7 linked regions of the Homo sapiens genome follow. The protein of the gene in region 4 interacts with the protein of the main gene of each other region in a pairwise test. Each region holds a gene or a part of one and is shown on either strand. Other genes may lie near its edges.

The links.
Region 1: the proteins of RNF10 (region 4) and TRIM26 interact in a two-hybrid assay, tested with the Homo sapiens proteins (one large-scale study listed by BioGRID and IntAct).
Region 2: the proteins of RNF10 (region 4) and UBE2J2 interact in a two-hybrid assay, tested with the Homo sapiens proteins (one large-scale study listed by BioGRID).
Region 3: the proteins of RNF10 (region 4) and UBE2Q2 interact in a two-hybrid assay, tested with the Homo sapiens proteins (one large-scale study listed by IntAct).
Region 5: the proteins of RNF10 (region 4) and RSPH1 interact in a two-hybrid assay, tested with the Homo sapiens proteins (one large-scale study listed by BioGRID and IntAct).
Region 6: the proteins of RNF10 (region 4) and DYSF interact in a two-hybrid assay, tested with the Homo sapiens proteins (one large-scale study listed by BioGRID and IntAct).
Region 7: the proteins of RNF10 (region 4) and UBTD1 interact in a two-hybrid assay, tested with the Homo sapiens proteins (one study listed by BioGRID).

What each region holds. Positions count from the first base shown.
Region 1 is NC_000006.12:30,206,303-30,210,562, forward strand, and holds part of TRIM26 (tripartite motif-containing protein 26), read right to left. Parts: intron 1-4,260.
Region 2 is NC_000001.11:1,267,095-1,271,354, forward strand, and holds part of UBE2J2 (ubiquitin-conjugating enzyme E2 J2), read right to left. Parts: intron 899-4,260; coding exon 768-898; exon of another isoform or gene 676-767; coding exon of another isoform or gene 639-675; intron 1-638. UniProt on the Homo sapiens protein: Catalyzes the covalent attachment of ubiquitin to other proteins. Seems to function in the selective degradation of misfolded membrane proteins from the endoplasmic reticulum (ERAD).
Region 3 is NC_000015.10:75,842,045-75,847,006, reverse strand, and holds the start of UBE2Q2 (ubiquitin-conjugating enzyme E2 Q2), read right to left. Parts: upstream 3,561-4,962; 5' UTR 3,341-3,560; coding exon 3,161-3,340; intron 2,964-3,160; exon of another isoform or gene 2,654-2,963; coding exon of another isoform or gene 2,522-2,653; intron 1-2,521.
Region 4 is NC_000012.12:120,554,472-120,558,731, reverse strand, and holds part of RNF10 (E3 ubiquitin-protein ligase RNF10), read right to left. Parts: intron 4,015-4,260; coding exon 3,924-4,014; intron 1,451-3,923; coding exon 1,266-1,450; intron 1,187-1,265; coding exon 1,050-1,186; intron 1-1,049. UniProt on the Homo sapiens protein: E3 ubiquitin-protein ligase that catalyzes monoubiquitination of 40S ribosomal proteins RPS2/us5 and RPS3/us3 in response to ribosome stalling.
Region 5 is NC_000021.9:42,482,725-42,486,984, forward strand, and holds part of RSPH1 (radial spoke head 1 homolog), read right to left. Parts: intron 3,738-4,260; coding exon 3,647-3,737; intron 3,081-3,646; coding exon 2,945-3,080; intron 1-2,944.
Region 6 is NC_000002.12:71,464,987-71,469,852, forward strand, and holds the start of DYSF (dysferlin), read left to right. Parts: upstream 1-1,712; 5' UTR 1,713-1,856; coding exon 1,857-1,947; intron 1,948-4,866. UniProt on the Homo sapiens protein: Key calcium ion sensor involved in the Ca(2+)-triggered synaptic vesicle-plasma membrane fusion.
Region 7 is NC_000010.11:97,501,356-97,505,615, reverse strand, and holds part of UBTD1 (ubiquitin domain-containing protein 1), read right to left. Parts: intron 1-4,260. UniProt on the Homo sapiens protein: May be involved in the regulation of cellular senescence through a positive feedback loop with TP53. Is a TP53 downstream target gene that increases the stability of TP53 protein by promoting the ubiquitination and degradation of MDM2.

The sequences.
Region 1 (4,260 bases), on a different chromosome or scaffold from region 4:
TGTGGATGATGCGTTCTTGTGGTCACACTTGGCTTACTTTCCCCACGGAGCCGAGCATCAGTGGTGCTCTGAAGCACAGTGCAGGCCACAAAAACTACCAGGGCTCTGAACGCTAGAAATCCCCACAGGGCTCAAAGAGGGGCAGGAGGTAGCAGCCAGCTGGGAGGTGGATGAGACAAGGCGTTAAATTGCCCTGGTCTTGTGGCTGACCCACAGGGGAAAATTGAGGGTTCTTCATATTTGTGCCAGAATATCTGTCTAATGTTGAATCATGAACCAAGCTCTCTTGTCTAAAATATTCCTAAGTGTCACTTGGTGCTTTGCACCAAATATAGGAAGGAATCCTTTATCATCTTGTGGAATGGTTCAAACCTTGACTACACATCAGATTTGTAGTCTTCAAACTGGTGAGTCTTCAAAACATACCTAGACCAACTGACTTAGGATCTCCAGAGGTGGCCCAGGCTCTGGTATTAAAAAACAAACTTCCCAGGAGATTCTAAAGTCTATCCAGGACTGTGAATCACTAGAACCCCTTATTTACAGAGGAGGACAGTGAGTGCCAGAGCCTCGGACTCATTTGCCCAGCAGCAGAGCTGGCTGGCAGCAAGGCCAGCACTAGCACGAGGTGGGGTGAGGTGCACCTCCCAGCTCTGGGCTCCTTCCATTCCACCATACACTGCACTTTGGTGCCTGGAAAATGAACTCTTCCCTGCCCATATGGAGTGCTGTGGAGGGTTAGCCTCACAGGCAGAGGAAATCATCCGCCGGAGAAAGGGTAGCGGTGAATTTGAGGAGCTGACAATTGGCCACAGGTGGAGTGCAGTGAGGCGAGCAGAGGAAGGGTGGAGAAACAGGAGGGAACAGATTATGCAAGACTGTGACCCAGGTTAAGAATTTTGGACTTTATCCTAACAGCCCTGGGAAGCCATTGAGGGTTTAAGCAGCAGGATGTTGAAAGTTATTCAACAGCTAGCAGATGTTTATTAGGTGCCGACTATGTGTCAGGCACCGAGGTTACAGCAGAGAACAAAAGTGGCAAACTCCCTGTCCTACCAGAACTTACATCCAGTGACCTGAGGAATCCTTTAGAAGCTGAAATCAGATCCAACTGTGGGATCATCAAACCCTCAAGGGTTTCCTGATTTACATAAACCTCCTCTCCCCTTTGCTGCCCCAGTGCTGCAGCCACTCTGGCCTTTTGATCCTCAAACACACTCGGTCACGTGTTAAACTGCCAATCTGCCCGGGTGACCAACCAGGTTAAACCCCTCAATGGCTTTCTGGTGCTCCAGGAATAAAGTCAAAACTCCTGTCCTTCCTTTCTTCTGTGAGGAGGCTGTCCCAGGAGATCCTAGCTGGATTCCCAGATAATCATGGCCCAGCCTGTGTCTCCAGGCTCATTTCCTGCCACTCCCCACCTCAAACTCACAGCCAAACCAAACCGCTCTCCATGCCTCAAAGTGCTATGCTCTTTCCTGGCTAAGCCCTTCGACAATGTAATTCCTTCTGCCTAGAACACCATCCCTTTCCCACTTAGCAAATGCCTTTTCTAGCTTGAAGTCTCAGCTGAAAGCCACCTCCTCTGGCAATTCTTTCCTGACCTGTCAGATTGGGTCCACATGTAGTCTAGTTATACAGCCCCAAAACACCCCATGCTGCACCCTGTACTTCTCTGCAGTTTTAAGTCCTGACTTATTAGTGTAATTACTCGCTTAACACCAGCTTTTTCCATGAAACAAGGAGAGAGATTGTGTCTGTCTTATCACCAGAATCTACATATTACTTGGCACAGAGTAGACAATAAAAACTGACTGAGAAAACAAAGCACAAGCACAGAGTATCTGACACAAAGAAGATGCTTCCTACACATCTGCTGAAGGAATGCGAACAATCTTAGCCACCTGCCCTTTCTCTCCAGCAAGATGGTAGTAAATTGGTAGAGAGAGAAGCAATTTCTTCATATTCCCTGTAGCAGCAAGAACAGTGGGCTGCACGTCACCAGCAAATCATCGTATCCAAGGTTTCGCTCCAGCAACTTACAGAAACCAGGAGAAGAAAAAGCTGTGTCTGAGAAAATGGTTGTTGTGGAGTAAATTGTAATAGTGAGAATCACTCCTTCCCTTTTCTTTAGTTTTAGACCTAGGTATACACCCCATAAACAGAGTTTATTTTCTCAGGTTTTGAGCCTCAAATGAATGGAATTTTTTTCCTTTTTTTTTTTTTTTTTTCCATGTATTTGGGTGGGGGGCTGTCAACATGTTTGTGAGGCTCATCCATGTGATTATGAGCTGATTTTACTTAATTGCTGCTCTCTAACTATACAATTTTTAATGCAGTCTACTGATAGCCATATGAGTTGTTTCCAGTTTGGGACAATTACAAACACTGCTTCAGTGAATATTTCTGCATACATGTTCTAGCACACACAGGCAAGATGTACCCTCAATTTGACTAAGCAGGCCAAACTGTTTCCAAAGTGACTATAGTGCTATGTAGTCTGCTCAGCAGGCTATGAGCACTCATGATGCCCCACAGCCTCACCAACACCTGATAATATCAGCTTTAATTTTTGCCACTCTGGAGGATGGGATATAGAATATGTGTGTGTGTGTGTGTGTGTGTGTGTGTGTGTGTGTGTGTGTGTGTATTTAACTCCCCAAAAGGAAACAGCATGAGACAGGCCCAATAACAGGCCAAGGAATCCTATAGCAGCAGACCAGATATTGTGCTCCTCGACCCAACCAGTAAATGTTGTAAATGTTTATCTTTGGGGAGAGAAGGGGAAGGGCCCACCCAGCTTCTGTTCTTCTTTCCCTTGGTAACTTACCATCTATGAGTTAGTGAGATGGAGACATCCTAACCATTAATCCAGGGAAAGGGAGGAATCTAAGCCATCAGCAAGGGAGTTAGTGCTTTTCATCAAATTTGAGACACCTGTGACATCACATTTTAGCATCTCTGAAATGTGATCAATTGCATGTCATAATTTAACTGGCAAAATATTTTTTTGATGTGGAGCATAAAATAAGGGCACATAAAAGATTTGGTGGTGCTGTGGTTTGAACATGTCCCCCAAAAGTTCACGTGTTGGAAACGTAATTGCCAATGTAACGGTATTAAGAGGTGGGGTCTTTAAGACGTGACTGGGTCATGAGGGTGTAACTCTCATGAATGGATTAATGCCTTTCTTGCAAGAGTCCATTGGCCAGAACCGTGAGCTGAATAAACATCTGTTGTTTACAATTTACCCAGTCTGTGGTATTCTGTTACAGCAACAGAAAATGGATTAAGACAAATAGCATCTTAGATTTGGTGAGATGTGGCATATTTCCTAAAAAGTGCTGCCAGGATCATCCTTCTAGCACACAGGATCTCATCCTTGTTATTCTCCTGCTTCAAATCTCCTAGCTGAGGCTGGGTTTGGTGCCTCATGCCTATAATCCTAGCACTGTGGGAGGCTGAGGCAGGAGGATCCCTTGAATCCAGGGGTTCAAGACTAGCCTGGCCAACATAGGGAGAGACTGTCTCTAAAATAAAATAAATAAATAAAAATAAAAATAAAAATAAAAACAAACACACCAAAAAAACTCCTACTAGCTGAGGTCAAAACTGCACAGGTGGCCGGGCACGGTGCCTCACGCCTGTAATCCCAGCACTTTGGGAGGCCGAGGTGGGCAGATCATGAGGTCAAGAGATCGAGACCATCCTGGCCAACATGGTGAAACCCAGCCTCTACTAAAAATACAAAAATTAGCCGGGCATGGTGGCACGCGCCTGTAGTCCTAGCTACTCGGGAGGCTGAGGCAGGAGAATCGCTTGAACCCAGGAGGCGGAGGTTGCAGTGAGCTGAGATCACGCCACTGCACTCCAGCCTGGGTGACAGAGCGAGACTCTGACTCAAAACAAAAAAAAAAAACTGCACAGACATCCTCCCCTGCCCTGCATCCGGCTAGCCCCAACTTACCCATCCAGCCCCAAATCCCTCCTCGTCCTACCTAATTCTCTGGCCATTAGATACACTGAACCAGGAAGACAGCCCCTTCTTCACTCCCCACTCTCCACCCATTCCCTTGTACATGCTCTTCTCTCCAGTCCAGCGCATCCTTGAAGGCTTGAATACAATTTGTCCCCTTATCTGTGAGGTGTTTCCTGTACCCATCCCACCTCTGAGTTGAATGTATCCCTCCTCCTGCAGCTTTGCATACACTGTATTTCTACAATAGCACTATCACAGTGCTTCATACAGTAGCACCCCCC
Region 2 (4,260 bases), on a different chromosome or scaffold from region 4:
ACCAGGCTGGTCTCGAACTCCTGACCTCAGGTGATCCGCCCGCCTGAGCCTCCCAAAGTGCTGGGATTACAGGTGTGAGCCACCATGCCCGGCCTCTCACACTTTATTTCTTACCAAATTACTAGCAGACCTGTAATGGCAGTGTTTCGACAGAGCAGTATGCACTCTCACACTCTATACTTCAGCAAGGGGGAGAGTCACCATGAGGTGAATGCTTATGAGGCACAGGTCCTCTCGTTGTCAGCCTGAGGGTCGGGGCACCTGGCCCAAGCCAGTGCCAGGGACAGGAGTGTCGGACCCTAGTCCTGTCAAATACTCCAAGCCAAAACAGGCTAATTCCCATATCCAGAAGCAAAGAGCAGAGTCTAGAAAGGCAGTTTCTCCTCTAAGTGCCTAGAGTGCACACCAGCAACAGCTGTGAACCCTGCATACCTGGACCCCTCCCCTAAGGACCCCACACCAGAGACTCTCTCCAGCCCCAACCTGAGTCAACCTGGACCCCGCCCCCCTCAAGGGCCCCACACCGGAGATTCTCTCCAGCCCCAGCCTGAGTCAAGCATGGCTCTGTGATGTCCCCGGCATGCGTCCATTGGGAAAAGACCAGAGAGTGTCCACAGGCCCCTGGGCACCCCACTCACCCCGGGGGAGGGTGCAGGAGCACCTTGCCAATGCCATGACTGGGGCACCAGGCTCGCCCAGCAGGGGCCGGCAGAGGCCTGCGTGGCAGCGACAGTCAGCGCAGGGCGATCAGTGGCGCGGAGCCTTACCACTCGAGAATATTCGAAGGGAGGGGCTCGGCACAGATGTAAGGCACCGGGTCTTTCTTAATGCGAAGGTAGTCCTGCTTCAGCCTCTGGGTTGCCGTGGTCGGAGCCCTCTTACTGCTGGTGCTGCTCATCTGTTAAAAGCAACGTCTACACTGACGACGAGAAGCAGCGCCGGCCACAGCTCTCTCCCCTGGCGCAGCCCCACTCCCGCCTCTGCAGCCCGCCATTCATTCAGGGCCCGGTCACCCAGAGTCACAGCTCACAGGTCACCCTCGCTTGCCACCCGCCCAGACACCCAGAGGCCCTGCGGCTTCTCTCTTCCCGTCTGTCCCGCCACCACCTTCATTGACACGACGTACAGCTCAGGTACAAAGACGAGGAGAAACCCAAAGCCTCGTTCCTGTCCTCCAAAAACTCACGCAGGGATACATTTACAGGGCTTGAGGGGGTATTCGGGCCACAGCCTCAGACCAGCTCCTGAGGGCAGCTACTCGCACCTTCCAACTCAGCTCAAGGACCCCGCACTGATGGAGAATCCACACCATAGAAGTGGGCAGGCACCACCGCCGGCCCCTTCACCGCACCCGGAAGCCCGCTGCCCAGCATTTACCACTAGCCACAAGCAAAACGAGCCGCAGAACGGGGGAGCCTCTGCGGCTGGAGGGACGAGGACTCTGGAGACTCCAAGGCACTCACTGGGCAGAGCAGCTGTCTTCCTGGTAGAAGGGGCCACAGGTGAACAGGCCACACCTGAGAAAGTGCAGTGTGCAAGGGCCCAAGCACAGTGAGGGCAGGGATAAGACTGGCCAGGGAGGCAGGGCCAGGGCATAAGAGTTTATTTACTTATTTTTCGTGAGACAGGGTCTTGCTCTGTCGCCCAGGCTGGAGTCACTGTGGCCTTGACCACCTCGGCTCAAGCAATCCTCCCACCTCAGCCTCCTGAGTAGCTGAGACTACAGACGCATGCCACCACGCCTAGCTAATTTTTTTTTTTTTGTAGAGCTGGGATCTCACTATGTTGCCCAAGGTGGTCTCAAACTCCTGGCCTCAACTGATTCTCAGGCCTCAGCCTCCGGAAGTGCTGGAATCACAGGCAGGAGCCACGGTAACCCGGGCCCCACAGGGGTTTGGGGTCCAAGCCTCAAGGCAGATCATATCTTCTGTTAGGAAAGTCACTCTGGTGGCTCCATTGGGACGTTCAAGACAGCACTGAAGGCCGAGCATGGGGCGCGAGGCACCATGCAAGAGAGGAGGCTGGATCAGGGACCCCAAGGCCCCTCAGCCACACCCGAGACTGGGGAGAGGGGTGGTGATCATCATGCAAGAGAGGAGGCTGGATCAGGGACCCCAAGGCCCCTCAGCCACACCCGAGACTGGGGAGAGGGGTGGTGATCATCATGCAAGAGAGGAGGCTGGATCAGGGACCCCAAAGCCCCTCAGCCACACCCGAGACTGGGGAGAGGGGTGGTGATCATCATGCAAGAGAGGAGGCTGGATCAGGGACCCCAAGGCCCCTCAGCCACACCTGAGACTGGGGAGAGGGGTGGTGATGAAAACAGGGCTCCCTGCTGCATCAGACTAGCTCCAACTCAAACCTTATTTTTTTTTTTTTTTTGAGATAGAATCTCACTGTTCGTTGCCCAGGTTGGAGTGCAGTGGTGTGATCTCCGCTCACTGCAACCTCTGCCTCCTGGGTTCAAGTGATTCTCCTGCCTCAGCCACTCAAGTAGCTGGGATTACAGGTGCCTGCCACCATGCCAAGCAAATTTTTTTTGTATTTTTAGTAGAGACGGGGTTTCACCATGTTGGTCAGGCTGGTCTCGAACTCCTGACCTCAGGTAATCTGCCCACCTCGGCCTCCCAAAGTGCTGGGATTACAGGCGTGAGTCCCCGCGCCCAGCCATGGCCACACGATTTAATAACGTCTGTGGACATCAGTGGCCATCGATAACGGACAGTGACCAGTGATCTCCATCCTGACCTCCCAGTTCCCACAAACCGGAAGTCTACTCTACCCAGTTTCCTTGCTGATATGCTTTGGCTATGTCCCCACCCAAATCTTATATTGACTTGTAATCCCCATAATCCCCCATGTTGAGGGAGGGACCTTGTGGGAGGTGACTGGATCATGGGAGCAGTTTCCCCAAGCCGTTCCAGTGAAAGCGAGTTCTCAGGAGATCTGATGGTTTATAAGGCAGTGTTCCCTGCTCTTGCCCGCTCTCTCTAGCCTGCTGCCATGTGAGACATGCCTCTTCCCCTTCCGCCATGATTGTAAGTTTCCTGAGGCCTCCCTGGCCACACGGAACTGTGAGTCCATTAAACCCCTTTTCTTTATAAATTACTGAGTCTCGGGTACATCTTTATAGCAGCATGAGAACCAACTCATACACCTGTAGACAGCCACACATTCCACCTCCTTTCAGTCTCCACCTGCAAGAGATCTACAGACTTGGCCTCTCTAACCGGTTTATTCCTCCTCAGAGAACCACCACCAGCAGCCTGTTTAGTGTCTGCTCCCAACCTGAGGATGTCAATGGCCAGGGCTTGGCTGCTCACCCCACACACCCAGGGCCTGGAGTGCAGAGCTCAGCCAGGGCACCCAACGCGTGCTCCCAAATGTGTGGCCTCAGCACCACCCCCAACCCTGCTTCTTGTTCTGGGGTCCCTGACTCTTGCAATCCTTGTTCACCACAGCCTTCCCACTCTCATTATCTTCTCTAACGCAAAATGTCATCACTTCTCCCATCAACACCACAGGAGCCTCCCAACTCCCCCCGTGGGTCCAGAAGGTCTGAGCTTCTAGTCTCTTCCCATTTCAAGGCCCTCCTGTACCCATAAGTCAACATACTGTTCCGATCACCCACTCCCCCATCCACCCTTCAGGATACTCCACAGCCAAGCAAATAAACATCAACACGTCCTCTTGCCTGCCAGCCCCTTGACAGAGGCAGCCCCAGCCAGCCCTCCTCATTCCCAGCTCCCAAGACAGAGCAGCCCCAGCCAGCCCTCCTCGTTCCCAACTCCCAAGACCCAGCACGGCCCAGGTCCCACTCCAAAGTCCTGACCGACACACTCCTTCTCACAGCTGCTTCCCAGCCTAGCCTGTACTGGAAACTCCCCAGGCCCTTCCCGGCATAGCCAGAGCCACCGCCTTCAGAGGCCTCCCTGATTTCCCTGCCAAATGCCTCCCACTCTGTCACACATCACTGGCCTCCATGTGACCCCACACACAACGCAGGGCCCTTCTGGGCCCCAGCGGGTTCCTCTGCCTAAGGAGTGCCTCCCCAGGAGGGCCCCCACCAGGGATGGGGTTACAGTCCTGCCTGGGAAGGAAGTGCTTCCACACAGTGGCATCCCCAGCTCCTGGCTAAAGAAGCCAATGGGCCAGGGATCTCCCCTCAGGCCAACACCTGGTGATGGCCACAGTGATGACCCCAAGCAGCACCGCCACACAGGCTGTCCTTTCGACACTCACCCTGAAGCTAACACTCTG
Region 3 (4,962 bases), on a different chromosome or scaffold from region 4:
ACCCAGAAGAGCCTTGACGGATGGTCAGGCATATAAAGACAAATGGGGTAAGGTTAAGGGGTGGAGGTCAGGGGCACATTCTACAGGGAGAAATACAGCTGATACAGAAACCTGAAAGGAAAAGCCAGCAGAGCACCTGTACAGGACTCTTCAGGAACTAGCATGCACGTGTGTAAAAAACAACTTAGTTTCTCAAACATTAGAGAAACTGCATAAGGATGTTTCTTGGTAAGTATAAAGAAAACAAGTCCTAGCATGTAGAATTCAAATATTTGAACTGTCTAAAGAGGAAAAGTTAAAGAATAAGTCAAACTCATTACCTTTTCCAGAGTTACAACTTTAGAGAATAACAAATCATCGATCAAACCAAATCATTTGAAATCCAACCCCATTTTTCCCTTGATCTTTCCCTTCTAAGCAAATGGTATCGACATGAACAAGCCATGTCATTTTATCAAAACAGTCATCCATGTTTAAAAGAGTCTTTACGGCCAGGAACGGTGGCTCACTCCTGTAATCCCAGCACTTTGGGAGCTTGAGGTGGAGTTCAAGACCAGCCTGGCCAACATGGTGAAACCCCGTCTCTACTAAAAACACAAAAATTAGCCGGGTGTGGCGGCGGAAACCTGTAATCCCAGCTACTCGGGAGGCGGTGGCAGCAGAATTGCTTGAACCTGGGAGGCGGAGGTTGCAGTGGGCCCAGGTCACACCACTGCACTCCAGCTGGGACGACACAGCGAGACTCCGTCTCAAAAAATAATAATAAAAAATAAAAGAGTCTTTTACCTTCAAAAGATACAAGCAGAAATATTTACAGATGAAGTGATCTGTCTGGAATCTGCTTCAAAATAATCTAAAGTGGAGTACAGATGAAGATTAGCCAAAAGTTTATCATTGTTGAGGCTGGCTACATTACACTGTTCAACTTTTGTACATTTGATGATTTTCCATAATAAAAAGTTAGCAGACATTTGTACTGAGCAGCTGCCATGATAATTATCTCCTGATAGTCTGTCATATTTCACTAGCAAGTCAATTTTAATAGTTTCTACCTAGCGGTGGGTGCCATTACACTAGTCCTCACTAAATCCTCCTTGTACTGAAAGTGTCTCATTCACTTCTTGCTCCATTTCTGTTGCCACTGCCTAATCCAGGTCATCACTCCTTATTTTTATCTGCAGCAGACTCTTACCAGCCTTCAATATGGTTCTCGATGGGGCACCAGTGGCACTTTAGGTGGGATAATTCTTTGCTGTGGCAGACTGCCTGAACGTTGCAAAACATTTGGTATCCCTGTACTCCTAGCACTAAATGCCGGCACAGCAATAAGACCACCCCACCCCCACTGGGATAACCACATTTCCTAATGCCACCCACTGTAGAGAACCATTTCTAATCCTGGATGAAAGATACATTCTCCCAACTTACCTGAGTAAACTTAGTAGCTCCCCACAGCCTACAAATTCAGTCTCCTATCATTCAAACCAGCCCTACCTTTTCGTGGCCATGCCCCAACTTCTACCAGAGTAATCACCCTCGAAGCCATTCAGGCCCGTCTCCTTAAAACACCTGCTTCATGACAACTACTACACTTTCTGTTTTCCACTCTTGGAAAATCCTCCCCTTCTCCAGCCTGTATCGTGGGCTTCTCAAGTCTTAGCATAAATTTTCTACTTCTAAGGAAACCACACTTTCTCAAATCTCCGTGTCTTCTTTGGGTGGAGTTTCCTCAGTCTAAAATGCCCTTCCGCCAGCCTTCCAAAATTGTAGTCACCTGTGGAAGCTCATCTCTAACTGTCTCAGCCTCTCATCAAAGCCTTCCCTGAAGCGCACCTCCCCCAAGTCAAAATTAGTTGCTTTGGCTTTCCTGATGATACCACAGGAGCTGTCACCTTATTGAACTCTTCCCCCAAGAAGACTGAGTTCTGAGAGCGAGGACGACTTCACTCAATTCTGCAACACTAGTGCCCAGAACACTCAGACGTATTCATTCAATAAATGAATTATCTCCTCAGTACAGCACTTGTCTTTTTTTTTTTGAAATTAACACACCTTCTGCCCAGATAGTCTGGTAACCATTTTAAGGTCAATTATAACATCAAGGTTTTTGCAAACGCCAGCCACCCTGCAGGCACTTGAGTACCCACTGACTCAACCAAAGGGAGTTAAAAACAAGACTTGGTTTTAGCCATGTTTGAAAAGGAGCCCGAAGCCACCACCTTGACGCCTATTATAACCAAGAGAATATTCTGCAGTTTGGACCAATATCCTACATCAATTTCACGACGAATAGCTTCACGATACACTTTTATGGAGAAACTTAATACTTCAATTCCTTTACCAAGCCTTGGGTTTCTAATGAGATTTCCGCTTAATGAGTGAGTTTTTAAAAGTGTCTTTTCGGCTTTGTGACATACGTGATCTTTCCGGGGAGCAGCCCTGGCGCGTATCTCCTTTCACCTATCCATTTTCGAGGCTTACACACAAGGGAGGGGCCACACGAATACACACTCAACACCACCTGCCGCAACGACGGTACTATGCTCCTTTCCAGAACACAGCAGCGCGCAGCCAGGCCCGGGGGAGAGGGGTCGCTCAAACAGCACCAGAGTCTGCATTCCAACTTTTCCTCCGTCAACGAGTCCATTCTCATTGTCAGTTTCTCCTTAAACGCAAACTTAAAAACAATTGGCTGAACAAGCGGGAAGAAGGAAAATCCGACTGAAAAATGAGGCGTTAAAACTTAAGGGCCGTTCCCCTTGCCGGCCTGGGCTCAAACAACAGCCGGAGCTGCGCCGCCCCGCCCCGCCCCGCCCCGGTCCCGGGAGCAGGCCGGCTGAGGGCGGCCATGGACCCCACAAGGGCTTGGGCCGCCGCGGACTCCCCCCTCGGGGCTAGGAGACGGGGACCGAGATGGGCCAGAAGCCCCCAAGCCAGCCCCTGGCGAGAAGCCGGAAAGACGCGCCCTCCGCCTCCTCCCACCCAAGCCTCGCGCAGTCCCAGCCCGGCCTGGGATGGGCAAGTCGCGGGGGAAAGGGGCGGGCCTGCCCCGCCCGGGGAGCCGGAGCCTCTCCGGGGCAGGCTCCCCTTTGTCCCGGGACTCGAAGCGCCCCCTCTCCGTCCTCGCCCTGCCCCGCGGGGCCGCGGCCGGGCGCCTCACCGTGATGTTGCAGTGGAGCGTGAGTGGCGGCGGCAGCGAGTGCGGGCTGCCCTGCTGCGGCACCAGGAACTGGCAGTGCAGCTCGTCCAGCTTCCAACTGACGATGCGGAATCGCTCGTGGTTCTTGTCGAAGATGGACGCCAGGAACTTCAGCTCGGCCTTGAGCCCTGACACGGACATCTTCCCCTCATCTCCGGCGGGAGGGGCGCGGAAGGGGAGCCGGGCGCGGAAGGGGAGCCGGGCCCGGAGCCGCCGTCACGGCCGCGACCGCCCCGCGGGGCCGGCCTGGGCCGCGCTCTCGCGGCTCCGCCTCGTCGAGCGCTGCTGGAAAATGGCGAGGGGCGCGGAAGCCTCGGCGTGTGGCGGCCTGGGTGGCGCTTCCTTTGTAACCGACTCCAGCGGCAGGAGGCGGCGGCCCCGCGGCTTAAAAGGGCAACAGCGACGCCGCCCCCGCTACCGCCTGGGAAAGGGCTGCCCCCACCCCGCCCCCGTCCCCCTCACCCTGGCGCGCCCTGCGCGCTCCGGTTTCAGCGCGTGCACGAGGCCAGAGCGCGCGCGCCCGGCCGCCCCCTCCTCGCCTTGACCCAGCTCCCTTGTTCCCGACCCATCTGCTCCGTTCTTCGCACCCGCGGACTGGAGGCTCGGGGCCAGCTGGCGCCCGGGCCCCAGAAGTCGGGGAGGAGCCGGAGACCCCCGCGCGCCCCCGCCCCCGGCCTGGAGCCGGACACGTGCGTGGCGGATCGCGCCGGCCACGTCGGCGCCGCTGCAGACTAGCGCCAGCCCCTGGGGGCGGCTCCTCAGCTTGGCGCTCGGCGCGGCACCCGCTAACCTCACTGGGGGGACCTCGTGGGAGACGCGGGTGCGGCTCACCCAGCGTTACCTCCGCTACTTTCACCCTAGTCCGAGCCACCGCTTCGCTAGCCTGGGTTCCTGTGAGGACCTTCTCACCAGCCTGGGTTCCTGTGAGGACCTTCTCACCGGACTCGCTGCTCCCGCCTTTGCTCTCAAACCATCCATTTACCCAAGACGATGGTTTAGCCCCTGGAGGCTGTTGCCTGGAGGTGTCCCATGATTTCATCCCTTCCCTTAGCTACCACCTGTGTTCACTCTGCCGTATATAGTCTCTCTCTCCCCCCTTTCCTTATTTTGCCTTGTTTCCCAAGCTTAAGATAACCCTCCCCACCCACACCCCCATGGAGCTAGGGCTGCCCACTATTTTCACTAAACTCATAGCTCAAATATCATCTCCGGCACCCCCCACCACAACCCATTTCAAATAGTCACCCTGTGTCACATCGTCCTGTGCTAAGTTTTTGTTGGGCACCTGTCACTATCTGATCTTTAACCCATTTATTCCTTGTCTCTGCCCCGTGTTAATGTGTTCAGAGCTGTATCCCCAGGACCTAGAACAAGACCTGTTATATAGTAGAAACCCGATATGATTGAATTGAATGCTCGCTCTTATCTGGAATCCCCACCACTAGCACAATTCCTGGCACATTGTAGGTGCTCAAAAAATGAATAAAGGTCTGGATAGCAGTCCAAAGGAATACATCCCAATTTGGCAGACAATAGTGTGTGCAATCGTAAGTGCAAGAGGCAGGACCAGCTGCATATGCGTCCAACCTATGTAGTTGCACAGTGCTCCCAGCTTAGAAGGGCTTCGAGCTTGGTTTAATATTCTGGTGTCGCCATTTTGAAATTCGTAATTTTTCAGAAAGGGGCTCCGCATTTTCCTTTTCCAGTCTTACCTAGAGTTACCCAACCCTGACACCTGTCTCTTTCTTCCTAATCTACAAGAG
Region 4 (4,260 bases):
CCAGGCATGGTGGCGGGCGCCTGTAGTCCCAGCTACTCGGGAGGCTGAGGCACGAGAATCGCTCAAACCCGGGAGGCAGAGGTTGCAGTGAGCCAAGATCATGCCACTGCACTCCAGCCTGGGTGACAGAGCCAGACTCTGTCTCAAAAAAAAATATATATATACATATTATATTATATATCTATAAATAAAATAAAAATAAAATTTATCAGTCTTTTACAGCATCTATCATTTCAGCCTGGTTCAAAAATCCACCCATATCTGAGGATTTTTTTTTAATTAATACACATTTTTAATGTTTTAAGTTGCTAAACATTTAAACAGTCAAAATCACTAGGAAAAAAATATTACACACACACATTTACCACCCAAATGAGAACACACAATCCTTCAGACAGATGCACATCTGAGGATTTATAAAGAAATTGTCCTATATTTTCTTTTAAATAAAAAGGTTAAAACTTTTGGATTTTTTACATTTACTTCTTCAATCTATCTGGAATTAATTTCATGAATGGTATGAAATAGGAATCTAATTTTATTTTTTCCTTAGGGAGAATCAATTGTTTCAATACCATTTATTGAGAAATCTATCTTTTCCCCAGAGACTGAAATGCTATTTTAATCAAATGCTCATTTCTGCATGAAACACAGGGAATACATCTCTGGCATTCATTGTGAGCACTTATCACACTCTTTATCCTAATGGCCAGTCTACCAGTCTGTCTCTTCTATCGGACTACTGAGTTTCTTGACGACAGGCACCAAGACTGGCTGACCACAGAACCTCTAAGATTGGGCACAGTGAAAGACACTATGTAATAAAACCTTGTAAAATGAAAAATTAGGATGTATAGATTAAACAAACTTGAAACCAATAATTAATCTACTCTCTACAAACCCCACCCTAACCTACTGGAATCCTATGACTAATATGAACATGCCAGATGTGCCCTGCCCAAAGGCTTCACTTTCTGATGCTTAGATATATTCAATCACCTTAAAGAATGTACCCAGGATTATTTGTCCCCAAAATTTAAAGAACTCACCTCCTAGATGAATGGGATGGTCTACATTCATCCATTTGGATTTGGGCAAAGCCACCAACACCCCTTTCTCCCTCTTCATCAGCTGCATCGTAATGGTATCACCAACAACATACTGATGTGACTCTGTGGCAACAACACTGAAACATGGACACTCATATGTAGCAGGGCAAGGAGTGAAGAGATTGGGATCTAACTGAGTAAATGTCTCAATCTCACCTCTTGAGATCCTTCTTATGCACAGAACTGTAACAGATGGGACATTTACTCCACGTCTTCTCACTCAGTGAAAGATAGTGCAGGATGCATGCCCAGCAGAAGATGTGTCCACAACGGGTTATCTTGGCTGCAGTAGGTGGATAGAGGCATATTGGGCAAGATGGCACTTCATGGCTACAAATGCGCTGAAACAAAATGCCACCAGAAGGTTCACTGCTTGAAGAACTGATTAGGGACTGTCAAAGTTTTAGGCCTCTCTACTCTCTCATCCGCATCTCTCTCATCTCTATCCCCGTACATCCTTATACTCAACATATCTTTCTAAAATTGTTTACAACGTAGGTACATGTATGATCATTTTTTTCTTTTTTTTTTTTTTTTGAGACGGTCCATCTCCTTGGTTCACGCCATTCTCCTGCCTCAGCCTCTGGAGTAGCTGGGACTACAGGCGCCTGCCACCACGCTCAGCTAATTTTTTAGTAGAGACGGGGTTTCACTGTGTTAGCCAGGATGGTCTTGATCTCCTGACCTTGTGATCCGCCCGCCTCGGCCTCCCAAAGTCCTGGAATTACCGGCGTGAGCCACCGCGCCTGGCTTTGTATGATAGCTCTTTAAGCAAAGCATCAAGGAAACCATAATAACCGTTAAATATAATAAAACTAATACACAACAGGTATGTTGGGGGTTCTACATTAAATAGAAAAAAGTGACAAATCACTATATTCCCATTTATAAAAAAACTTAATATGTATGCATAAAGGCCTAAAAAGGGTCTAGAAGTAATCTACCAGTAACTTCCAACAAAGAACGCATTAAAAAGACTTCATTTTTTTTTAATAAAACTTAAGTTTTTATGCTATGTCATTCTCAGATGATTTTATACATTTTCACAGTAGTGAGAGTTCAAGCTTTTTTTTTTTTTTTTTTTTTTTTTTTGAGACGGAGTCTCACTCTGTCACCCAGGCTGGAGTGCAGTGGCGCCATCTCGGCTCACTGCAAGCTCCATCTCCCGGGTTCACGCCATTCTCCTGCCTCAGCCTCCCAAGTAGCTGTGACTACAGGTACCCGCCACTGCGCCGGGCTAATTTTTTTTTTTAGTAGAGACGGGGTTTCACCGTGTTAGCCAGGATGGTCTCGATCTCCTGACCCCGTGATCCGCCCGCCTCAGCCTCCCAAAGTGCTGGGATTATAGGCGTGAGCCACCGCGCCCGGCGAGAGTTCAAGCTTTAAGGTCAAAAGCCCCTGCTCATAAAGAAAAAGTGCCCATCATTTTGAAATTATTATTCTTCAACAGATACCCTACTAGGACCAACAAGGGGATACCTAGAGTTTATAACTTCAGTAGAAAACACATCAGTGGCTTTGAAAGTGCAACTGAAGCTGGGCGTGGTGGCTCACGCCTGTAATCCCAACACTTTGGGAGGCCGAGACAGGTTGATCACTTGAAGCTGGGAGTTTGAGACAAGCCTGGACAACACGGTGGAACCCCGTCTCTAATGAAAATACAAAAATTAGCCAGGCATAGTGGTGCACGCCTGTAATCCCAGCTACTCAGGAGGCTGAGGCATGAGAATTGCTTGAACCCAAGAGGTGGAGGTTACAGTGAGCCAACATCGCGCCACTGCACTCCAGCTGGGGCGACAGAGCAAGACTGTCTCAAAAAAAAAAAGAGGCCAGGTACGATGGCTCATGCCTGTAATCCCACCACTTTGGGAGGCCAAGTCGGGAGGATCACCTGAGGTCAGGAATTCAAGACCAGCCTGACCAACATGGAGAAACCCCATCTCTACTAAAAAAAAATACAAAAAAAAATTAGCTGGGAGTGGTGGTGCGTGCCTGTAGTCCCAGTTACTCGGGAGGCTGAGGCAGGAGAATCGCTTGAACCTGGCAGGCAGAGGTTGCAGTGAGCCAAGATTGCACCACTGTACTCCAGCCTGGGCAACAAGAGCGAAACTCCGTCTCAAAAAAAAAAAAAAGTACAACTGGGCCAGATAGAGTGGCTCACGCCTGTAACCCCAACACTTTGGGAGGCCAAGGTGGGTGGATCACTTGCAGTCAGGAGTTCAAAAACAGCCTGGCCAACAAGGTGAAACCCCGTCTCTACTAAAAATACAAAAATTAGCCAGGCGTGGTGGCGGGTGCCTGTAATCCCAGCTACTCAGGAGGCTGAGGCATGAGAATTGCTTGAACCCTGGAGGCAGAGGTTGCAGTGAGCCAAGATCACACCACTGTACTCCAGCCTGGGCAACAGAGTGAGACTCTTTCTCAAAAAAGAAAAGTACAACTGTGTGGCTCATTCATGTGCCTCCCTGCCACAAGGCTGAGGCCTACTTTGATAGTGATTGCTACGAATGGCTGCCAATGAAGCAATGGCCCTGTAATGAGCCCAACCCAGATCAGGAGGGTAAGGGGTTACTACTTCCCAGCTTACACATCTTCAGATCAGAGCCTTTCATACACCATCCCTACAGGCCAGAGCCAATTAGTCACAAAATGGACTCCAGGAAGAACCAGGAACTGACCTCTGGGAAACATCTATAGAAAGGCCAGGCAGAAAAGGGTATCAAGCAGTGCACACAGCCAACAGCTGCTGCGTCACCACAGTGCCTTTATTTAGTGCTCCCATTCATAGCTTATGGGCTTGGCTGAGCTACTCACCACTTGTTCCACAAAGTCCCAGTTAACTAATGTATCAGGATCAGCAAAATGAGCTGTGTAGTCTTGGTCTTCAGACACCACAAATTGGCAGCTAGAAATAGGAAAGACAGGAAAAAGCTAGACTGTCAGGATCTACCAATAAACCCTCAGCAGAAATTGTCATCTATTCACTTAGAAATCAAATGCAGGCCATTAGCAGCCCTGGTTCATGAGGCACTGCACTAGGACCTCAGCCTCAGTTCTGAGCTCCAGCTCTGGAAAGAACCCAAAGACTCAGCAGGCAGAAGTCTAAATCCATGAACTGTTTTCTTCTGCTTCAAGTCCAGCCAAATTCCCC
Region 5 (4,260 bases), on a different chromosome or scaffold from region 4:
ACCATTCTTAAGTGTCAACACCCAGCAGAAAATACAAAATACAAATGTCACCACCACAATACCCACCTCAAATCACCAAATTGGGTAAAGTGTAACATGGATTAAGGAATGCTTTTGTGAACTCGTGGCTGATGGGATTGGAACTTATATGCCCTGTTTTGTTTACTTTTGGAAACTTTAACCACATTTTACTTTTTTATAAAAGTGATGTATTCATTTTCAGAAAACCTCAGTGAATCAGTATCCATAGGCAAACTAGCTACCGATGGAACTACTACTAATATTTTGATGCATTCTTTGTAACTTTGCTTCTAGTATACATGGTTAAATAAAAATCTGATCATAATTATACATACTAACTCATACTCTATTTTTACTGAGAAATATGGCATGAACTACTTCCCGTATTTACAAATATTCTTTCCTAATAACAGTTGCCACCTGGTACTTTATTTCATCTATGGATTGCAACCTATTTTACTCAGTTACTATTGTTGGTATTTGGGATACTGATTTTTTTTTTTTTTTTACAAAGAACGCTCCAGCAAACGTACTCTGAGTTAAAACTTTATGTACGCTTTTGATACCATCCTTAAATTCTCAGAATTTCTGGACAAAAGCATACATGTGCTTTGATTAGATGAGGCTCTAATCGTTTCATTCCCATAACTGCACTTAAGAGTCCCAGATCCTCAAACTCTTGATTTTAGGAGTGTAAAAATGGTCTATTTTTACATGTTTTTTTATATAAAACAACAGGGTCTCACAATTTTAATTCACTTCATTTCAGTTGTTAGTAAGCCTGCATTTTTTTCAAGATTTTTAGCCATTTAAATCACATTGATTGATAAAACACTTTATATATTAAATGTTGCAAATATTCTCTCCCCATTTAACAGTCATCTCTTAGATTTTCTTTACAGCATTTTCTAATCTATAAGAAGTTATTTTTATAAAGCTAAACCTATTGGTTTTTCCTTTCTATTTCTGTTTAGAAAGTTCTCTTTCCTCATTTCAAGGTTAATATTCATCTACATTTTTTTTCTATATTTCCTAGGGTACATTTAAATCTTTACTTCTTCTAGAAAGTATCTTCATCTGTGTGAAGGCAAAACTATTATTTTCCTCCCAAATAATTGTCAAGTGTTCCTAGCACTATGTCTTGACTCCTCCCATCATCCCTTTGTTAATTTGACACGCTTATTGTGTGTGAAATTATTTTATATACTGGGAACTGTCTCTGGACTTCCTAATTTGCTTCATTGGTGTGTGTGTGTGTGTGTATCCTGGTATCACACTGTTTTAATTATTGAAGTTTTGTGGTATTGATAACTTGTCCACAAGGACATGTACAGGGAATTTTCTGAGGAAGAAACACAAACCAGCAATAAACATGTGACAAGATGTTTGACCTCACTAGTAATCAGGGAAGTACACATTAAAACAATGAGATGACATTTTTTACCCATAAGATTGGAAAAGAACAAAAACAACATTAAAGACTGAGAATATCCAACATCGATGAGAATATATGATAAACAGACTCATATTCTATTGGCAAGAGTATAAACTGACACCACTTTTTAGGAAAATGGGCACTACCGATTGTGATTCTAAATGCCAATCCTCAAAGGTTTCACAATTCCATTATCTAACCTACACAATAGTCCCAAATGTGCAAAATGACAAATATGTATCTTTATGTATATTTTTGTATCCTGACACAGTATGATCCTAATTATGTAATTAAAACCCCCAAACAATAATTCTGTGTCAGATGACTGTATTAGAATGTGCTTACATGACACACAGAAATAGTGTGGAAGGATTGGGCCCAGGGTGGTGGGGCAGGATCCTAGTGTTTAAATGCTTTACAATTGGAATGTACTTGTGTATTATTTGTATAATTTAAAGTTTTTTACTAACTAGCAAAACAAAGCCTCCATTTTTACCCCGATTTTTCAGACTGGTTTAGGCTGGACAAGCTGATTGATTCTTCCAGATTCATTTTCATCAAATTCTCTTCCTCTGCAACCACCTTCCCATCTCCTCCAAAAAGACCCACAGAAAGTTTGCTGGGAATTATATAAACAATGTATGGGTTTGAGGGGAATGTGCTGTTTTGATGAAGACTAAAAGTAAAATCTGTGGTTAGGGCATGAATTATACGTAAATGAAAACTGGGTTCTAAGAGAGTCTGAAGAGACTTCGTTGTATCAGCTAAACATTCCCTCTGTCAACTTCTAACACCATCAATTTGCTCCGCAAATTCTCTCTTCAGGGAAAGTTTCTGCTCAACCCCTGATCAAAGCTACCACGATGGCCTGAGTATTAGCTTCTGAATTATTCAAGGTTTCTCTGTACAATAAGGGCAAGAGGAACCACCGAGTCTTCCAAACAGAAACGGCCCACCATGGGTGCTAGAAGCTGGCAAGCCTCCAGACGCAGGGCCAGGCCCTTGGCAGCCTTAATTCCCACCACAACTAGGAGCACGCAGGCTGGCCTGTAGCATGAGGAGGGAGCTGGGGGTCTTCCTCCCCAGGGATGTCGCACCTCCCCTTCCAGGGAAACAAAACCCAAACACCTCTATGCTCAATTGCAGGAAATAGATATTTGGTATCTGATTTACCCATGAGAAGGAATACACACAAGAGGTTCAGATGCCCTCTCGTGTTATATAACAATGCAACAGGTCCCCGCTGAAAGACAGTGGGAATTTGTACTGAGATCCAGAGAAACGGGCCAATCCCTCCCTTCCCCCAATTCTGTGCTCTGTGGGTACCAGAGGCTCAGAGAATGGCACAGCTGTCCTGTTCTCCACATTTGAATAGGCCGGACTCAGTTTTCTCTGAGTTTTTGGTATTCTCTGGTCACACATTTGCACAGGCTGCCAGAGGGGGTTATTTTGTACTTCATTGGCAAATGTCACTTCCCATGGACTTACATTTTTGTTCAAGAACTTGCCCTGGTACCTGTGGTTCAGGTGAATGAGCTCGGCCGTGCCCTCCTGCTGTCCGTTCACCCAGGTGCCAACATACTTACTGCCCGTCTCCGCGTATAAATAGGTGCCTTGCCCATGCCTGGTTAAGACAAGGGGAACATGGTATTTCGTTCCAGCACAGTGAAAAATCTCCCAGGTTTAAAACACAGACATTGACATTGAGGGAGGCCCAGGCTGTTGCAGGCTCACAAGCGATGTAGCTTCTATATCTGTGTCCAGTCAGAAGGTGCCCCTTGCTCAGTGTGCCCCAAGCACAGGACATTGCCAGAGGCACAGAGGACAGGCCAGCTGGACAGAGGCAAGCCTCCTGTGTGTCAGCTGCTTTCCCCAGGGAAGAGGCAGAGCTAGTGGGAGCTGTGGCTCAGGTCCCCCAGTGGCTCTTCTGTGCCCTCCACTCCCTGGGACTCTTGGGTGAAAGACTCACGTGCTCTGCCCCAACTGAGGTGCAGATGTCAGATACTTGAGTCTACACTTGCACAGAAAGGCATCCTTGCCTCAAAGCCATAGAAAGATTGGACCTGCCTGGCAGAGTTGGTAACTGGGCTTTTGTTATGATTCTGTTCCTCAGTAAGTGTAAACAATCTGCAGACATCATGTTCTCATTACATAAGCAAATCCCGTTAAGACCCAAGATAGAAACCGAACCTTTGATGAGCAAACCACTCTCCAGTGTAGGTGTCATTATTGATGTAGTAGTATACGCCATGGCCGTGCCGCAGGTCATTTGCCCACTCTCCTGAAAGGAACAACACAAAGGCAAGCCCAGGTGAGAAGAAGGGATCGATGCCCTGTACCATGTCTTCAAATTGTTAACCATGGCAAAGGCAGATGTGTTGTGAAGCAAATGAAGCCCATGCACACACAGGCCCCTTCTGCTCAGGAAATCCTGCAGAAGAGAGATTTTTAACAGCACCGACCAAGGCTGCTATCTGTTTCCACTCTGACATCCCTCCACCCCTTCCTTTTGTGCCAGATGGCATAGGTGCTGAGCCACGGTGGACAGTGGGCTAAGAGAGGGCTGAGTCAGGAGTTCACGGGGTACAGAGTGAGGTGTATGGATGTGGGCCACAGCCACCTGCATGTACTGACAAGCACATTTCACAGGTTAGTCAGAGGCACCACGAAGATGCAACGAGGAGGGAGACAAACCAAGGTTGTCTGACCCATTGCCAGTGATCCTAACACCACACTTCATTTACCTTGCAAATGTTTAGAGATCCAGCAACAACTCCAGGGCTTGACCATCTATCCTCAGCCAC
Region 6 (4,866 bases), on a different chromosome or scaffold from region 4:
GGTTCAAGAGAGAATGGAGGAGGGAGATTGGAGACAGAAAGTATGGAGAGCTCCTTCAAAGGGCATTGTTGTGAAAAGGGAGAAATGACCAGTAGCTGAAGGGGATGTGGGGTCAACGGTGTGCTTTCTTGAGAGCAATAACATCATGCTTGTGTGCCGATGGGATGATCCGGTAAACAGGGGAACTTGGTAAGGCAAGAGAGTGAGAGAATCACTGCAGGCTCACCACTGAATGGGCGAGAGGGGATGGGGTCTATGCCCAAGTGTCCAGTTGTTACCAGTGGGGAGTACGGGTGATTCATTTGTAGGAACAGGAGAGAACTCACAGGATTTGGGCACAGATGCCGAGGGCGGGCGTTAGAAGGAGACTGGGGACCTGAAGAAGTTCTCTGCTCCGTAAAGAGGAAGCAAACTGAGAGTGAGGTTGGGCGATGGGGTGTCCTAGGGGCATCCGGGAGACAGGGAGACAAGACATATAGTATGATTGCCCCCAGCAGTGAGGGCTCGCTTGAGTTAAGGGTCATGACTACAAAAGGCACCACTCAGGCCGGCTGTGTTACTCTCCAACACAGCACTGGTTGGGGGCAGGTGTGGAGGAGGCGGAGTTGGATTCGCCAGGGTTATGGCTTAGCCCTGTGAGAATGCTGTATCCCTCAAAATAAGAGAGGGGAAAGGGAGTTGAGATTTTGCGCAGCAGTGCGTTTAGGCTGAGTGAGCAGGTTGGTTAGTGAGGACTTGGGCGGTGGGAAGACGGACAGTGCCCTGACAGGGGCTAGGTGCTGGAGTGCTGGGGGATAGAAGTGCGAAGCCAGGGCCCCTGTGTCAAGAAGTTCATACGCTGGAAAGGAACCAGACATAATAAGCGAAACGACTGTCACCGTTCATGGCTTACACCTTGAACAGCTTTCCACTGTGGAGACTAGGGAGTGTAGAGATTGTTGGGGATGGGGGACTTGCAGGGGACAGAATGGGCCGCAGCTGGACCCTAGTTCTCCAGGGAACGCAGTATGATTTGAATACAGATCTCTGCCTCCAGAGATGAGTGACTCGACACCGCTGCGGAGAAGGCTCCGAGGAGGGTTGGTGGGGACTCGAACCTCGGAGTCTCTCCCGACCCGGGGGTCCCAGCAAACCAGAACGGCCACCTAGACAGCCTGCGGACGGGAGAGGACCGGCTCCCTGGCGCAGATCATGGGGCAGGTGGAGAGAGGCGAGAGGCAATGAGGCGGGGGGCTCGGGGTGCACGGCACGCTCCGCACACTCCCCCTTCAGCGCTCACTCAGACTTGGTTTCCCCGAAGACACACTCTCGTCCCCGCCGCTGATTGCCCACTCCTTCCGCCTGCACTCCTGCCTCCTTCTCACCCTTTCGTCGAGCGCACAGGGCGGCTGCCAAGTCGGCACCGGTGCGCACCGGGCCCGGGATCCCTGGCTGGTGTGGAGCCTTGGTCACCGGAGGCCCCCGCGGAGCAGGCCCCACGGCGCCTTGTGCGCTCTCGGAGGCCGAGCTGCGCGCCCGCGTCAGCGGCGCCTCGTTCCTGGCCGGGAGCTGGGACCCGCGGAGCTAGGGACCAGCACCCCCACAGGCGCCCGTCTGACCCCTGTCCCTCCCCGCCCGCCGCGGGCAGGGCGGATCTGGGTAGGGGCCGGAGGGGGAGGGTCCGCCCAGCGGGTGTCCGGTGTCCTCCCTGCAGCCTCTCCCAGGCATTGGTCACTTCTCCGCGGAGGAGCAGCGAAGGCGACAGCTCTCTTGGCGCGGCTGCCTGGGAGCCGGGCGCTTGCTGGGTGGGTGCTCGGGCCCGGTGCTCCCGCTCCCGCCCTGACTGCGCGCCTGTGTGCCGCCGGGGCTGCCCAGCCATGCTGTGCTGCCTGCTGGTGAGGGCCAGCAACCTCCCCAGTGCGAAGAAGGACCGGCGCAGCGACCCTGTCGCAAGCCTGACTTTCCGAGGTGAGAGCCCCGTGGCTGCCGCGCCCATGCTCGGGTGCTACCCGACTCTCGGCGCTCACTGGCGGGTCTGAAGCCCCTGCTCCGGAGCTAACCCTAGTCCAGGCCACAGTTTCTCCCTTTGTCAGCAGGGACGGAAATCCCAGCCCCGACTTCTGCAGGGGGGCGATGAGGAATAAGCAGAGCACAATAAATGCCACAGGGCTTTGAAAAATTGGAAAAGCGAAAGTGCCGTAGGTCAGCGGTTATCACTTTTCTAAGACTGACACCCAGAGGAAATAAAGTCCGAGCTTTTACTGGGTAGTGGGGATAAGGGTAAGTTGGAAGATGGGTGCAGAAGGTAGAGAGGAATCAGGGCCTCTGAAAAACGGGGCGTGTAGATGATGTGCTTTGAAAGTTGTGTCTTTTTTCATTCATTCATTCATTCATTCACCCATCTTTATCCAACATTGGCTGTATTGAATCTGCCCCGTCTTAATCAGTAGGAAAAGGAACAGAATAGGATGGAAATGGCCTTGACACAAGGAGTTTTGAGGAATGTCAAGGATATTTTCTCTAAATTCAAGAAGCTAAGTCCCTACATGTAGTGCTTAGAATACATACAGGTATTTCTGTGTGGGGCAGCAGAGAAATCACACACACACTCCTCTTCTCACCAGGCGTCCTGAACCCCCTCCCCCAACCCCTCCAAGGCAGATTCCCACTGGAGCGGGTGTCTCAGGAGGGGAAAGGGAAGAGGAAGGATCTGTCAAAATTAAGAGAAGGAACAATAGCTGTGAGTCAGGACCCCAGTTCTGCAGAGAAAGATAAATCAGGAGAGGAAAGAGGGTTTCCACTTAGCCAGGAGCCATACCCTGTAGCTTTGTGGAATCGATAATAATAATAATAAAAATCTACGTATCAGAAAAGATAGTCAAATGAAGAAGGAAGAGTAGCTGGTGTTTTCATAAGCCTCCTTCAGTGCAGGCACCAAGGGAACTCTTTTCAGTCTGACCCATGATCTGAATCATATCTCCAAGCACCCCCAAGATAATGATAGATGAAAGACATGATTTGGCAAAGGGAGATTTATGTGTAGCTTTTATTCTTTGCTGTGGGACAAGTTATATGTATTCCTCTTTTGAAAGATGTGATTTGAAACGTTTAAGAAAATTTCACTATTTTCATTGATTGGTGACATGCCTGGGAGTTCACTATGCAAGAGCAACTTCAAGACAAAGTCTTTCCTTCTCCAGTGTCCACCTGATGCTGCCTAAGGCTTTGCTATGCAGAAATTGCGGTGTCACCATTGGCTGGAAAAGAAATTCCCTAAGGACACTGGGCAGGGCACACATTAGCATAGGGCTCTGGATGCTCTAACACTCGTTTGGGTCTGCTCACAGCTCTTTCCCTTGTCCTGTAACAGTCCTGTGGTGGCTACCAATGTCTCCATTCTGCAAATAAGGAAATTGAAACCCAGGGAAGTTAAATGTGTTCAGGTCAGTGGTCATGGCAGGGAGCTACCAGCGCTTGGAGTGGGTATTGCCCTTGAGTCGGGAAGATGACCAAATCCCTTGAGGCCCCTCTTTACTATTGCCCTCGCCCAAGTACCCCGAACACGTGCAGCTGCTATCTCCCCCCAGATCTCTGTATTCCTTCTTTGTAATGCCTTACTATTTATTTGCACTGATGATCTCCTCGGAAAACAGAAATACCATACAATAGAATGTAACATCTCCAACCGTTTCAAGTCTATTTGTATTTCAAAGCCCAGGGCAATGCCACCTTCTCCAGGAGGACACCCTGGATCCCCCTGGCTCTCAAGAGTCTCTCCTCTCTGGATGACAAGCAGCAGCACCTTGCTAGGGATGCTAGCACCCTCGCCCTGACTGGCCTGTGCTCAGCTCCATGCTTAGGTGCCTTGAGAGCAGTGACCTGTCCTATTTGTTCATTGGTTTGTCCCAGTGCTGAGCACAAGTAGGTGCTCTCTAGTGTTTGTGCGCTTTCTGGCCCAGCCTCTAGCCATCCTCCAGGTGTGCCTGGGAGCTTCATTTAGTCTGGGACATGGTCCGCTCACTTGATTGTTCCTGAGAATCACTTGTAGAACGTGTTTGAGAAACAGATTCCAGAGTCCCCATCTGTAGAGGTTCCGATGCAGCAGGTCTGGAAGGTGACCTAAGAATCAGCACTTAACAAATACCCGATGCAGGTTATTTTGGAACCGCATCTTGGGAAAAATGGGTCTGAGATGTGATGGCAGGTGAAATTAATGCGCTCCCCATTGCGGGAGCATTCACTGGGGAGTTTGGGGCTGAGTTGATGCCTAAGGAGGGAAACCGTTAGAACCAGGTTCAGAACTTACAGAGCATGTAGGCTGGGGGGACTCAACTCTGGCTGCAGGTCAACATTGTGTGTGGGAGCTTCACCAAAGACCACTGCCAACCTCCCTGCCTGCCTTTTCTGAAGCCAGATCCCTTCCGGTGGGGCCCCAGGCATAGGTGTTGTTTCTGTCAAATTTCCAGGTGTTTTGAATGTGCAGTCAGGGTTGAGAACCACTGAGCCCAGCTCCTCATGGCACAGATGGGACAGTGGCCTGCTTGCAGAGAAGCCAGCCTGCACTGTGTGTTTGGCTCCTACAGGCAGCCTGAAATGTATGGGGCTGGGCTGGCCCCACTTTCCTTGCAGTTGTTCCCTGTCTCGGATGTAATTTCAGGACCTGCCTCCCAAAATAGACTATGAGCTCTGGGAGGCTGGACTCTGAGGGCAATTTTTTGGCTTCCCTGTCTAAGCACCTCTATTAATAGTAGAGGCTACTAATGAATACTTCTCATTCTTTTGTTTTTCTATTAATTAATTCATTAACTAAAACTACCATGAGTAACTGGGCCATAGTAGATATTTTTGACTGATTGTGTCAACGAGCAGCTTAATTTCCTATAGCAT
Region 7 (4,260 bases), on a different chromosome or scaffold from region 4:
CAGATGAAACTCTGTGTTGGGACCTCATATCTGAGCACACTGTGTAGCCATGAAAGTAATTTTTAAACCACCATTAGCTTATTTTATCTCCATAACATCTCTGTGAAGGAAACTGGAAATATTATCTTTTTAAAACGGGGGATCAACTGAGGAAGAAACAAATGACCTGCCCAAGATTACCACTCAAGAAAGTGGCAGAGACTAGACCTCCTCTCCTTTGAATACACTTGACCTCAACCACTTCCCTATAATATCTTGACCTCCACACACTCACAACTTAAAGGAGCACATGCAGTTTTTATGTAGGTTGCACCATGTTTCTGTGAACTAGGCAGGGGACAGACATACCTTTGTTCTCTTTCTAATGGCTGGGTAAGAAAAAAGAGGTTATAGAAATCTTTAGGTTCCTTTTCAGCTCTAAAATTCTATGATTCTAAAAATTCTCCAGCAAGTTGATGGGTAAGAGATGCCTGGAATCCACATCACCTAACTTCCTCCCTTGTAGTCTATTAGGCCACCCTATCCCTGCCCTGCGAGTTAAGGACTACAAACATCACGTGTGCCTGGAAGAGGGGGGTCCACTCTGACATAGGTGCACACATAAAATGGCAAGAAGGTGCTACTGCCTGGTTAGGACCCCAATAGTGAGCTTCACTTTGCCCTCCTGCTTCAGCCCTGGTATCTCCCAGCAAGAGGCACCCAAACCACAGGAGTCATATATATCCCAGGTATCTAAGAACTTACGCAAGCCTGGGGCAAGAGAGAAGCCAGTCCCAGAGATAGAACACCACTCTGAGGTTGCAGTTTAAGTCCCTTCATTAAGATACCTGCCTTAACACCCATCTAAGGTAGGAGATCAATCAGACGTGTTCACTTATGCTTTTCTATAGACTTCACCAACTCTAGTTTTATCCAACAACTATTTACCAGGCACTGCTCTTGGTATCACAGAGTGAACAAATAAAAATCTCTGACAACATGGAGCAAGGGGAGACAACCAATATCAGAGGATGACATAAGCAATGGAACAAAATAAAACAGGAAAGGGAGGTACATAATGCCGAGAGCAGGTGATAGAGGGAAGGGGATAATTTTAAATGAAATGGCCTGGGAGGGTTTGATTCCTTAAATAGGAGACTGGGACAAGGAGAGAGAGGGACCCATTCAGATATCGGGGGGTTGAACAAGGTGATGGAGAGCATGAGATGGCTTAAGAAAGGTGAGCAGGTGAAAATCATATCATATCTTGTAGACCAACACAAGAAGTCTTGAATGAGATGCAGTGTCACAGGAGGCTTGAGCAAAGGAGTAATGAAATCTGACTTACAGTTTAGAGTATCACGCTGGCTAGTGGGATGGAAATAGTCTGTCGGGAGACAAGGGAGGAAGCAGGAAGGTGAGTTCACAGGCCAGTGGTAGCTCAGACCAGGGTGAAAGTGGTGGAGATGGTCAGAGTCAGGTTCGGGACATATTTAAGGCAAAACCAACAGGATTTATTGATTAAATGGATGTGAAGTGTGAGAGAAAGGGAGAAGTCAGGGACGACGAGAATTTTAGGGGCCTTGGCAAGCGGAAGGATGAAATCATCATGAACTGGGATGGGAAAGACTTTGGGAGGTACAGGGATGGGATGGGGGTTCATTCTGTTTTGGACACGTTAAACTAGGAAGCCTTTTAGACAGCAGGTGTGGTGAGCAGGCAGCAGAATATCCAAGGCTGAAGTTGCAGAGAATGGGCTGAAATTATAAATGTGGGAGGAGTCACCAGCATATATAATACTACATAATTCTATGTATGATCATGTGTAATTTGCATGACTATGTGTTTACTGTCTGCCCCCTACAAGACTGTAAGCTCCATGTGGCCAAGGACCACGTCTGTTCACAGCCAGCAGGGTGCTTGGCACTCAGTACATACTTACTGAGCAAATGGAGAAGTTGCCCAATTACTCCCTCAAGAATAGCCACACAGCCCACACAAGAAGCAGACTCTCTTGCAACCACAGTGCCAAGCCCAACCAGCCCCAAACAGGGCCCTGGGTCTGTCCACCCCGAGCTTGAGATTCCAGAACGTAAGTGGATATGCCTGGCACATCACAGAGTCAGATATTTGGGTTTCAGCCCTGCCACATTCTCAAAGGGTGGAGCTGGGCAAGAGACTTGCCTGTTCTACCACCTCTACCTCTCCCTGGAGTGGCTGGGGGAGAGGCTGCTTCACCCAGTTCATGGGCAGAGATATTTATCTACCTAGTGTACATGTATGGGGTGGCAAGAGCCCCCACCAAAGGAGTAAATCCCCAAGTATTCTCCGAAGCATACAAGAACCACCCAGCATCTGAAGGAGAAGAACACAGACCTACTGGGGATGCATTAAGAGTAACAATCCAAAAAAAATTTTTAAGGCTGGGTGTGGCGGCTCACGCCAGTAATCCCAGCACTTTCGGAAGCCAAGATAAGAAGATTACTTGAGGCCAGGAGTTTCAGACCAGCCTGGGCAACATAGCAAGACCCCATCTCTACAAAAAATAAAAAGTTAGCTGGGCGTGGTGGTGCACACCTCTAGCCCTAGCTACTGGGAAGACTGAGGGGAGAGGATCACTTGAGCTCAGGAGTTAAAGGCTGCAGGGAGCTATAACTGCACCACCATACTCCAGCCTGAGCGAGAGAACAAGACCCTCTCTCTCAAAAAAAAAAAAATATATATATACATATATACACACATATATATACGTATATATATACATATATACGTATATATACGTATATATGTATACACACATACGCACACACACACATATGAGTGACAATCACAAAACTTGATGAGACGAGAGGACCTCTCCCTTCTCCCTAATGCAAGAATCCCTGACCAGACAGTATTGTGTCTCTGCTTTGTCTACCAAGTGACTAAGAAGGCAGAACTAAGGACAAAGGGTGACATTACAAGCCATAAAGATTTCACCTCAATAACTTTCTCGCTTTAAACAGCTGCCTTTGTGAAGATGATAAAACAGCTCTAATGATCTTGTATAACCCTCCCCCTTTCTGAAATATTGAAAGTGTGACCCAGAAAGGTTAGATGACTTGCCCAGGGTCACTGAGTTATAGGCCCAGGACTAGAACTCAGGTCCTAGCTCCCTGTTGAGGCTTTCTTCCCATTACATTAGTGCCAAAGGAAGGTAAGAGTTACAGTGGCGCTGGGGGAGTTTTAGGCATTAGTCTTACAACGTAAAACTATGTCCTTGTCAAAGGAAAAGCCACAGATGTTACAGGAATGCCAGGTGCACTGTGGAGTTAAGAAGGATTCCTTCCCTTGTACCAAATTTGTCATCCTACAGAGTTCCCCTCGGCTTTGGACTTTATGAATAAAGCTATTCATAGTAGGACCCACAGAACTAAAGCAATGATAAACTAGCAGGTAAAAAAAAAAATGCAGATATATGAAAAATGCAGATGGTAGGATGAAGTTGAGTTTGCTTTCTAAAATCAACAAATACTGAGTGCTACTTCTGTACAACTCATTGTGTTAAGTGCTGAATGTGTGTGTGTGCGTGAGAGAGACATATACTACAAGGATAAGACAGAACCCAGGTCTTCAAGGCTTGCAATGTAGTTGCTGATAAAAGACTGTAAACATCAAAGACATGATTAATAATACAGAGTACATAATTGTTAAGTAAGTGGCATAGATAATGTGTCTGCAGGAGTTCTCAGAAGGAGCAATCACTTCCACGGGGTGTGTGTGGTGGGGTGCGGAGGGAGGGGGAAATGGCAGACTTGTCAGGCAAGGTGCTTCAAACAAGGCACGGCACTTGAAATGAACCCAAAGGATGAAAGACTCTCGATAAGAAGGAAATGGCACGAGCAAACACTGGTGGTCTTAATGTCAGAGAAGGGAAAGAAATCAGGACTTAAAAGAAAGGACTGGCCCACACTTGAACAGCCTTGAAAGTTAAAGTACTTGTAGGAGTGGGAAAATGCAGAAAGGTGTTTTGTTGTTGTTGTTGCTGTTGTTTTGTTTTTTTTTGAGACAGAGTCTCGCTCTGTCACCCAGGCTGGAGTGCAGTGGCGCAATCTCAGCTCACTACAACCTCTGCGAAACTTCCAGTTCAAGCAATCTCCCTGCCTCAGCCTCCTGAGTAGCTGGGATTACAGGCGCCTGCCACCACCATGCCTGGCTAAGTTTTGTATTTTTAGTAGAGACAGGGTTTTGCCATGTTGGCCAGGCTGGTCTCGAACTCCTGATCTCAGGTGATCCACCTGC